Linked DNA regions of Homo sapiens. The protein of the gene in region 2 purifies or fractionates together with the protein of the main gene of each other region. This does not show direct contact. Each region holds a gene or a part of one and is shown on either strand. Other genes may lie near its edges. The genes, in order: WWC1 and SSX7.

Evidence for each region.
Region 1: the proteins of SSX7 (region 2) and WWC1 purify together in Homo sapiens (affinity purification with mass spectrometry; one large-scale study listed by BioGRID and IntAct). This does not show direct contact.

What each region holds. Positions count from the first base shown.
Region 1 is NC_000005.10:168,427,509-168,431,319, reverse strand, and holds part of WWC1 (protein KIBRA), read right to left. Parts: intron 3,288-3,811; coding exon 3,179-3,287; intron 2,614-3,178; coding exon 2,533-2,613; intron 1,184-2,532; coding exon 1,097-1,183; intron 69-1,096; coding exon 1-68. UniProt on the Homo sapiens protein: Regulator of the Hippo signaling pathway, also known as the Salvador-Warts-Hippo (SWH) pathway.
Region 2 is NC_000023.11:52,651,795-52,656,133, forward strand, and holds the start of SSX7 (protein SSX7), read right to left. Parts: upstream 3,107-4,339; 5' UTR 2,968-3,106; intron 1,699-2,967; 5' UTR 1,679-1,698; coding exon 1,610-1,678; intron 1,191-1,609; coding exon 1,076-1,190; intron 554-1,075; coding exon 458-553; intron 1-457.

The DNA.
Region 1 (3,811 bases), on a different chromosome or scaffold from region 2:
CCAGAGGCCGGGTCCGGAACAGGCAGGTTGTGCTTTCAGAGCAAGGAAGGACAGCCACGCGGATATTCCTAGAGGGAGACAGAACCGCAGGAAATCTTGGGTCAGCCCATGTCTGGGGCTAAAATGTTGGACTAAACAGCTGCTGAAATCCCTAAGCAAACAACAGTGGATGAGAGTTTGTAGAAGTGAGGAATCTGGGGAATCAGGCCCCTATACACTGGAAGGAACTTTGACAAATCGAACAAAATTCCAGATGCATTTGTCCTTTGGTCCAGACCCTTCACTTCTAGGCATTATCCCACAGATGCCCCTGCATGAGTACCAGTGAGCTATGGAGGAGGCTATTCAGCCTGGCACTGTCTGTGTGGGCAGAAGACTGAAATTGACCCAAGCATCCCATCTTGTCTTCCTTCCGTTTTGTCCGCCTTCCTGCCCTTTCTTCTTCCCACATGTGCCACCCTCACAGGCTGGCTGAGTGTAGACCACAGACACATAAGCTTCTGTTGCCACCCTCCAGGCCTTACGATCAGAGAAAACTTGGAGGCAGATGAGTGCAATAAAGGATAAACCCATCTACCATGGGAGGAGCCCACAGGCAGACAGAGCAGGTGTTTGCATCCTACCAGCATCAAGGTAACACGCAGTCACACCCCTCCAAGAGAAGCAGTGACTGGTGTTGACTCTTGGAAACAGAAGACCTATCTCTCTCTGCAAGAAACACTTGAGCTTAGGAGAAGATAAAACAGACTGTGACCATTCTTCTCCATGAGGCTCAAAGTCCAGGAGGGTAGGGCCCAGGAAGGATCTGCTCACCACCCCATTCCTAGAGCTGGCATGCAGCAGGTGCTCAGCACGTAATGGGGCAGGAATTCACACAGTCATCTAGAGAGTGCTTGTCTTTACAGTTGGTGTGCTTGCCGTTGTGCCTGTATTCACATGCACAGCACCGACATTCAGCATCACAGTCATATGCAGTACAAACCCACAGTGCCTTGACAAGGCCCATAACTGGATCAGGACAGGGCAGAAAAGTGACCCCCAGGGGTAACTCCAGAGGGTTAGGGTATGAAATACACCTGTCCAGCTACATACTCACACTTTCTGGTCTTGTTGCTGCAACAGAGCAGAAAGGTTACTCAGCTGGATGATTAATATTGCAAATTGCTTATTCTTCTCATCATACCTGAAATGAAAAGGGGCATATGAAGTACCTATTAGTAACACACTCATCTCTCTCATTCCTTCTCTCCATTAAAAGTCACAGGACGTGGCTGTTGGCTGCCCTGGGGCCTATGGTGAGCTCTAGAGCACAGGCCCAGTGCTTTGCTGCCATGCAGGGATGTAGAGCTAGAGCTGCCAATTGTTTGAAAATTTTTTTTTTGTTTTGAAACAGGGTCTCACTCTGTCATCCAGGTTGAGTGCAGTGGCATGATCGGGGCTCATGGTAGCCTCGACCTCCCAGGCTCAGGTGATCCTCCCACCTCAGCCTCTCAAGTAGCTAGGACTACAGGTGTTCACCACCACACCCAGCTAATTTTGTGTATTTTTAGTAGAGATGGGGTTTCATCATGTTGCCTGGGCTGGTCCTGAACTCCTGGAATCAAGTGATTCCTCTGCCTCAGCCTCCCAAAGTGTCAGGATTAAAGGTGTGAGCCACCACACCCAGCCAGTTGTCTGAATTTTTAAAAAGAACCCATAAATGCGGGTGAAATTTCATGATATGGAAATGTTGTCAACTAATTCCTATTAAAAAATATTGAAGGCCAGGTGTGGTGGCTCATGCCTGTAATCTCAGCACTTTGGGAGGCCAAGGCGGGCAGATCATTTGAGGTCAGGAGTTTGAGACTAGCCTGGCCAACATGGTGAAACTCCATCTCTATTAAAAATACAAAAGTTAGCCGGGCGTGGTGGCACACACCTGTAATCCCAGCTACTTGGGAGGCTGAGGCAGGAGAATCGCTTGAACCCAGGAGGCAGAGGTTGCAGCGAGCTGAGATCACACCACTGCACTCCAGCCTGGGTGACAGGTGAGACCCTGTCTCAAAAAAAAAAAAAAAAAAAAATTGAGATCATATCATCCCCCAACAAAAGAAAACAAAAAGAACAACCATGTGTGTATTGACCCAATCTGGGCTGCAGCCCCCAGTGATCAACTTCCATCCAGATCAATGAAACCTAGATGGGATGGAAAGACAAAAGCCACAGCAACAATGAACAAACACACTGAGAGGCAGGAGGTCTCAGTCCCAGTCCTGGCTCTGCTACCAGCCAGCTCAGTGAGTTGGGCCAAGTCATAAGGTCTTTTAAAACCCCATTTCTCCAACCTCATTTCTCCTATCTGTAAAGCGGATGGCTGGGAGGTGAGGAACGAATCAGCATCCCTTCAGTTAAGAAGCTGCAATGGCCAGCAGGTCCTGCTGGTGCTGCCTTCCACCCTGGGCGGCTGTGAAGGTAAATGCTGGGGAACGCTGTGGATGAAGAAGGGACCCCACACAGACCGTTCCTTCTGTCCTCCTCGTCCTCGTCACTTACTTCAGGGCAATCTGAATTCGGGTCGCACCCACTGCTTCCGATTCGTCACTGTCAAATGCAGCAGCTTCTGAAGCACCCAGTCTGAAAGGCAACAGGGGAGGAGGAGTTAGGCTTCCCTACAGTGAACAAACTATTCTGGGAGGCTGAGGTTACATCCCCAGGAAGGAAAGTTGGGGTTTGCTCAGCTTCCCTTCAGGTCCTTTTTTAAATTTTAATTAAAAAAAATTTTTTTTAGAGATGGGGGCTCACTATGTTGCCCAGGCTGGTCTCGAACTCCTTGTATCAAGTGATCCTCCCACTGAAGCCTCCCAAGTAGCTGGGATTACAGACTCACACCACTATGCCCAGCTTGGACTCCTCTCTTAAGGGGCCTTCCCTTTCTCTAGTGCTTGCTCCTTAGCCATATACCTTTTTCGTAGCTACCACAGAACTAGCACTCCCCCAAACCTGAAGCATCTCTAACCCCAGGAAAAGTTATGCTGTCTGTGCCTTGGGCAGCCAAGAGGAAGGTGGGGTCATGCCCTCTTGGGGCTCCTCCCACACACTGTGGGGGCCAAAACCTAAGCCTCTCCACAGGCCTAGGCTCTGGATATTCAGAGTTCATGGCTTACAGGGCCACAGAGAGAGCCAGCACCCAGACACCTACCTCTGCACGGAAGCCTCGTACACACCACTGTCTCCAGCCACTGACTCGTCCGATACGGCGGCTGAGACACAGGCCACTTTCAGGCCACACCCCTGGGCCGTATTCACAGCTAGGGAAGGAAAATGGAAAGGCAGGTTCAGGAACCAGGAAACTGCCTTTGCGACTCCCAATTTTGTTTTGTTTTTGAGGCAGGGTCTCACTCATCCAGGCTGGAGTGCAGTGGCACAATCATGGCTCACTGCAGCCTCGACCACTTCGGGTTCTGGTGATCCTCCCACCTCCGCCTCCCAAATACTGGAACTACAGGCATGTGCCACCATACCCAGCTAATTTTTGAATTATTATTTTGTTGTAGAGATGGGGTTTTGCCATATTGCCCAGGCTGGTCTTGAACTCCTGGTCTTAGGCGATCTGCCTGCTTTGGCCTTCCAAAGTGTTGGGATTACAGGCGTCAGCGACTGTAATCCCAACACTTTGGGATTCGGGGAGCCTGAACTCCCAATTTTGATACACTCTCTATGGAAGACAGACGGTTCCACCAAATTCCAACCACCTCTAAATGCTAAAGCAAAAAAAAAAAAAAAAAAAAAAAATTAAAAAAAAGTTTGCTTTAGGGTGATGGAAGGAGTCACA
Region 2 (4,339 bases):
AACCCAGGAGGTGAAAGTTGGAGTGAGCTGAGATTGCCTTATTGCACTCTACCCTGGCCGAGAAGAGTGAAACTCCATCTCAAAAACAAAAACAAACAAAACACACTATCAACAAGTCACAGCTGAAGCTGTCTGTGCAGCACTCAGCAATCCCTGCCCGCCCTCCCTCCTCCACTTACAGCCAGTCACCTCAATTTGATGGCTTTTTATTCACATTCATGTTTGTATACATTTACCATTTACTTATTATCTATAAAAATATATATTCTTGTTTTTCGTGTTTTAAAATTTTATATGAATGGCCTCTGTAGTTAACTTTCTGCATGCAATTTTTTTTTTTTTCACTCAGCCCTGATGTGTATGAGGGAACAAATGCCTGAGGATCTTTCCCAAGTAGCTGAGCTGAAAAGCAGCTGGGCTTGAGGAGACCCTTTCCAGCCCCTTCCCGTCTACTCACCCTGATTCCCTTGGTTACGGTCATTATCAAAATCATTCCCCTGGAGGTCTGTGGCCCCTGTATTATGCATGAAAGGTGGGAGGGTGGCCTTGAAGCCTAGAAAGAAGCAAAATGTTTATTCCTTAAGAGACAAGCTTTGACCTGTCACGGTGGCTCATATCTGTAGTACCAGTGCTTTGGGAGGCTGAGGCTGGAGTATTGCTTGAGGCCAGGAGTTCAAGGCTGCAGTGAGCTATGACTGCACTACTGCAAACTAGCCTAGGTGACAGACTGAGACTCAGACTCAAAAAAAAAGAAAGAAAGAAAGATACAAGCCGAGAGAAGGAAGGTAGGGACGGTGTGGGGGTGCCGGGATGCCACAGAGACACTTGGACTCATCAGAACAGAAGCCTAAGGGAGAGAAACGTGCAGGATCCAGGTATGAGCTCCACTGTGGCCAGTCCCTGCCCTCAGCCCTGACAGGATACAGAAGAGGAGAACACCCAGAAGCTGCCTTGCGATTTTTCCCTGCACAAAAGGAAAATGTGGGGTACTTTCTGCAGCCTAAGAAGTAGCCAAAGCAGGAATAGGGATGCTCATGTGTCCCCAGACTTGTCTGTACCTAGAACTTTCTGTTACCTAGTTTAGTCATGGCCTCATACTTTCTCTTCATATACACATAGCTGATTTTCTCCAAGGATTTCATCTTTTCCCACTCTTTCTTAGAGAAGTATTTGGCAATATCATCGAAGGACTAGGAAAAGATAAAAAAGGAATTTTGTCAGTGACTCAGCTAGACATGTCTGCCATTCAGCTGGAGCCCCTTCCTGTGTGCTGGATCTGGGAAGTGGGGATGATGCCATGGCTAACCGACAACATGAGCGACCTTTCCTAGCTTCACCCCTGCCACACAGTAGGGCTTTAATGCTGCTGACTGACTCTCTTCCCACTTTCCAGAATGGACTGAGATTCACCAAATGTAGTGCACGGTCACAGACTTGTCTCCAAGGATGCTAGTTGATGACAGAGCGAGGATGGGAGGCTCTCAAGGATCCAGATCTCCCCCAAGACCCTGGTCCTTGTCTCCAGTATCTCTGTCCTCCCCTCCTCAGAAACTTGGCCACCCCACACTGTCCCCTGGGCCACTACTCTGCTCCCTCCAGGTCACCTCACCTTTTGGATCTTCTCTGGTATTTGAGCACCAGCCCTAGGTCTCCTTGCAAAGGCGTCGTCTCCGTTCATGGCACCAGGAGCAGTCTGACCTGCAAGAGAAATAGCCTGAGTCTTTCCAGCCACAGCAGCTTTGGTCTTGTGGAGGGAGAAATCAGTGAAGGCCGGCCACCCTCAGTCACCTGGAATCAGGTGCTTCATTTCTCCATCTGGGGCTTATCTGTCCCTGAGTAATGACATGGGGCGAAGTCAGATGAAAATAGGGAACCAGGGGTCTCTGGGAGAAGTATTGATTTGGGATGACAGGCTTCCTGTGGGCAAAGCAGCCTTGAGTCTTTGGGAGGGGGTTGGCTAATGTTGTTAGTAGTTTCCCTGGGGCTAGCCTTACTCTGAAAGATGTACAGACCCTTGTTGGGAAGGCAGAGATGTGACTGTGTAATTTTATTCAGTGGGGGCATGCTGACACCCCGACTCAATAAATAATGGAAGGGAAATGAGTCCCAGAGATAACATCGTCTCTCTGGTGATGGATCTGATCAGGCAGAGGGATAGGGGGTTCTGTTCTGTTGAAGAGAAATGAGCATGGCTAATATGAACGGATTTAGAGGCTATTACTGGGTGATTTGTAAATTATTAGAAGAAGAGAGCTAGAATTTCTGAGACTACAAGAGCCCGCCATCACTTAGAGAGAATGTAGGGAGTTTCAAGGTGCAGCAATCAGCCAGGCGCAGTGGCTCACGCCTGTAATCCCAGCACTTTGGGAGGCCAAGGAGGGCGGATCGCTTGAGCCCATGAGCTTGAGACCAGCCTGGCCAACATACCGAAACCATCTCTACTAAAACAACAACAACAACAAAACACACACACACACACACACATTAACAGAAGCGGAGTGGTGTGCACCTCTAGTCCCAAGGCCTACGCGAGAGGATCACTTGATCCCAGGAGGAAAGATTTGAGTGAGTTTTTTTTTTTTTTTTTTTTTGAGTCATGGTCTCTCTCTGCTGCCCAGGCTGGGATGCAGTGGTGTGATCATGGCTCACTGCAACCTCCGCCTCCTGGGTTCAAGTGATCCACCAGCTGTGGCCTCCAAAACTGCTGGAATTACAAGCGTGAGCCACCGTACCCGGCCCAAATTTGTTAAGTTACTAGAGTTCCCAGGAAAAATCCCATACCTGAAAAAGTTAGAAACTGACAGGAAGGATTTGAGATGGCGACCTGCCTCACATACACTCCTTATTAAAACTAGATAACAAATGCACCACAGAGGAGGGGAGGGGTAGTAAGAATGGAAAAAGAAAATCAGCGCATGCTTACTCTGATTTTGGAAGAATCAAAAGAGAAAATCAGACCGTGCGTACTCTGAGTATGGAAGAATCGAGAGAGAAAGTCAGAGCATGCATACTCTGAACTTAAAGTAGCCAATCCCAGGGGATGCTTTAGGCGGGAAAATCAGAGTCTCCACCCCCACTTTGAGAAGGTTCTGTCCCTGGAGCCTGGACTGATAGAAGCCACATCAGCTTCGCTTATCACGCTACTGTTCTGACTTCTGATTGGCCAGATGGAGTTCACTAACTGCCCTGATTGGTCCATCATCCCTGCATAGTGACATTGCACAATATTGTCTCCTCCTCCAGCAACACTTTGTTGCCACTGCGACAAAGTGGGTGGTCCTCAGGCGCCGTCAGGAGATTTTGAACTCTCTGAAGACCGTCCCTGGATCTTGGGTTAAAAATCTGTTTTCTAGTCTGAACAGCGAGAAGAAAAAAATAGTCGGATCTGTGATTTTTCTACTTGAAAGACACAATGTTTTCCAGACTAGCACATTTGCAGAGCTTTGCTGTACTTAGTAGTGGCTTTCATTCTTCAGTGGCTTCTATATCTGTTGCTACTGAAAAAACAGTCCAAGGCCCTCCAACCTCTGATTACATTTTTGAAAGGGAATCTAAGTGTGGTGTGCACAATTACCATCCTTTACCTGTAGCCCTGGAGAGAGGAAAATGTATTTACTTATGGGATGTGATTGTGGTATTGGTTACATCCGCCTTGGCCAATCTTCCCGCCTCGGTCTCGCGACTACAGGTGGGAACCACCCCACCCCCACTAATATTTTTTGTTTTTGGATTTTTTAAAAGAGACGGTTTCGCTATGTTGGCCAGGCTGGCCTCAACCTCCTGGGCTCAAGGGATCCTTCCACCACGGCCTCAGGACTACTGCCATTCTGCCCTGCTCATTTTTATTTTATTTTATTTTATTTTATTTTATTTATTTATTTATTTATTTATTTATTTATTTATTTATTTACTTATAGGAAAGACAGGCTTTCGCTACGTTGGCCAGGCTGGTATTGACCTCCTGGGCTCAAGCAGTCCTCCCACCTTGGCCTCGGAACTACAGGAGTGAGCCATCCCACCCACGCAATTTTTTTGTTGTTCTTGTTGTTAGTAGAAATGGGGTTTCGCTATGTTGGCCAGGCTGGCCTCTACCTCCCGGGCTCAAACAATCCTCCCGCCTCAGCCTGGTGACTACAGGCTCACACCACCCCACCACCACTAATATTTTTAATTTTTCTAGCAGAGACAGTTTTGCTATGTTGTCCTGGCTGGTCCCTACCTCCTGGGCTCAAGCGATCCTCCTGCTTCAGCCTTGGGACTACAGGCATGCACCGCCCTGCCTTTTGCTATTTTTCCCCGGCTGCTTTTGACTTTCTGGGCTCGCTCAATGATTTGAACC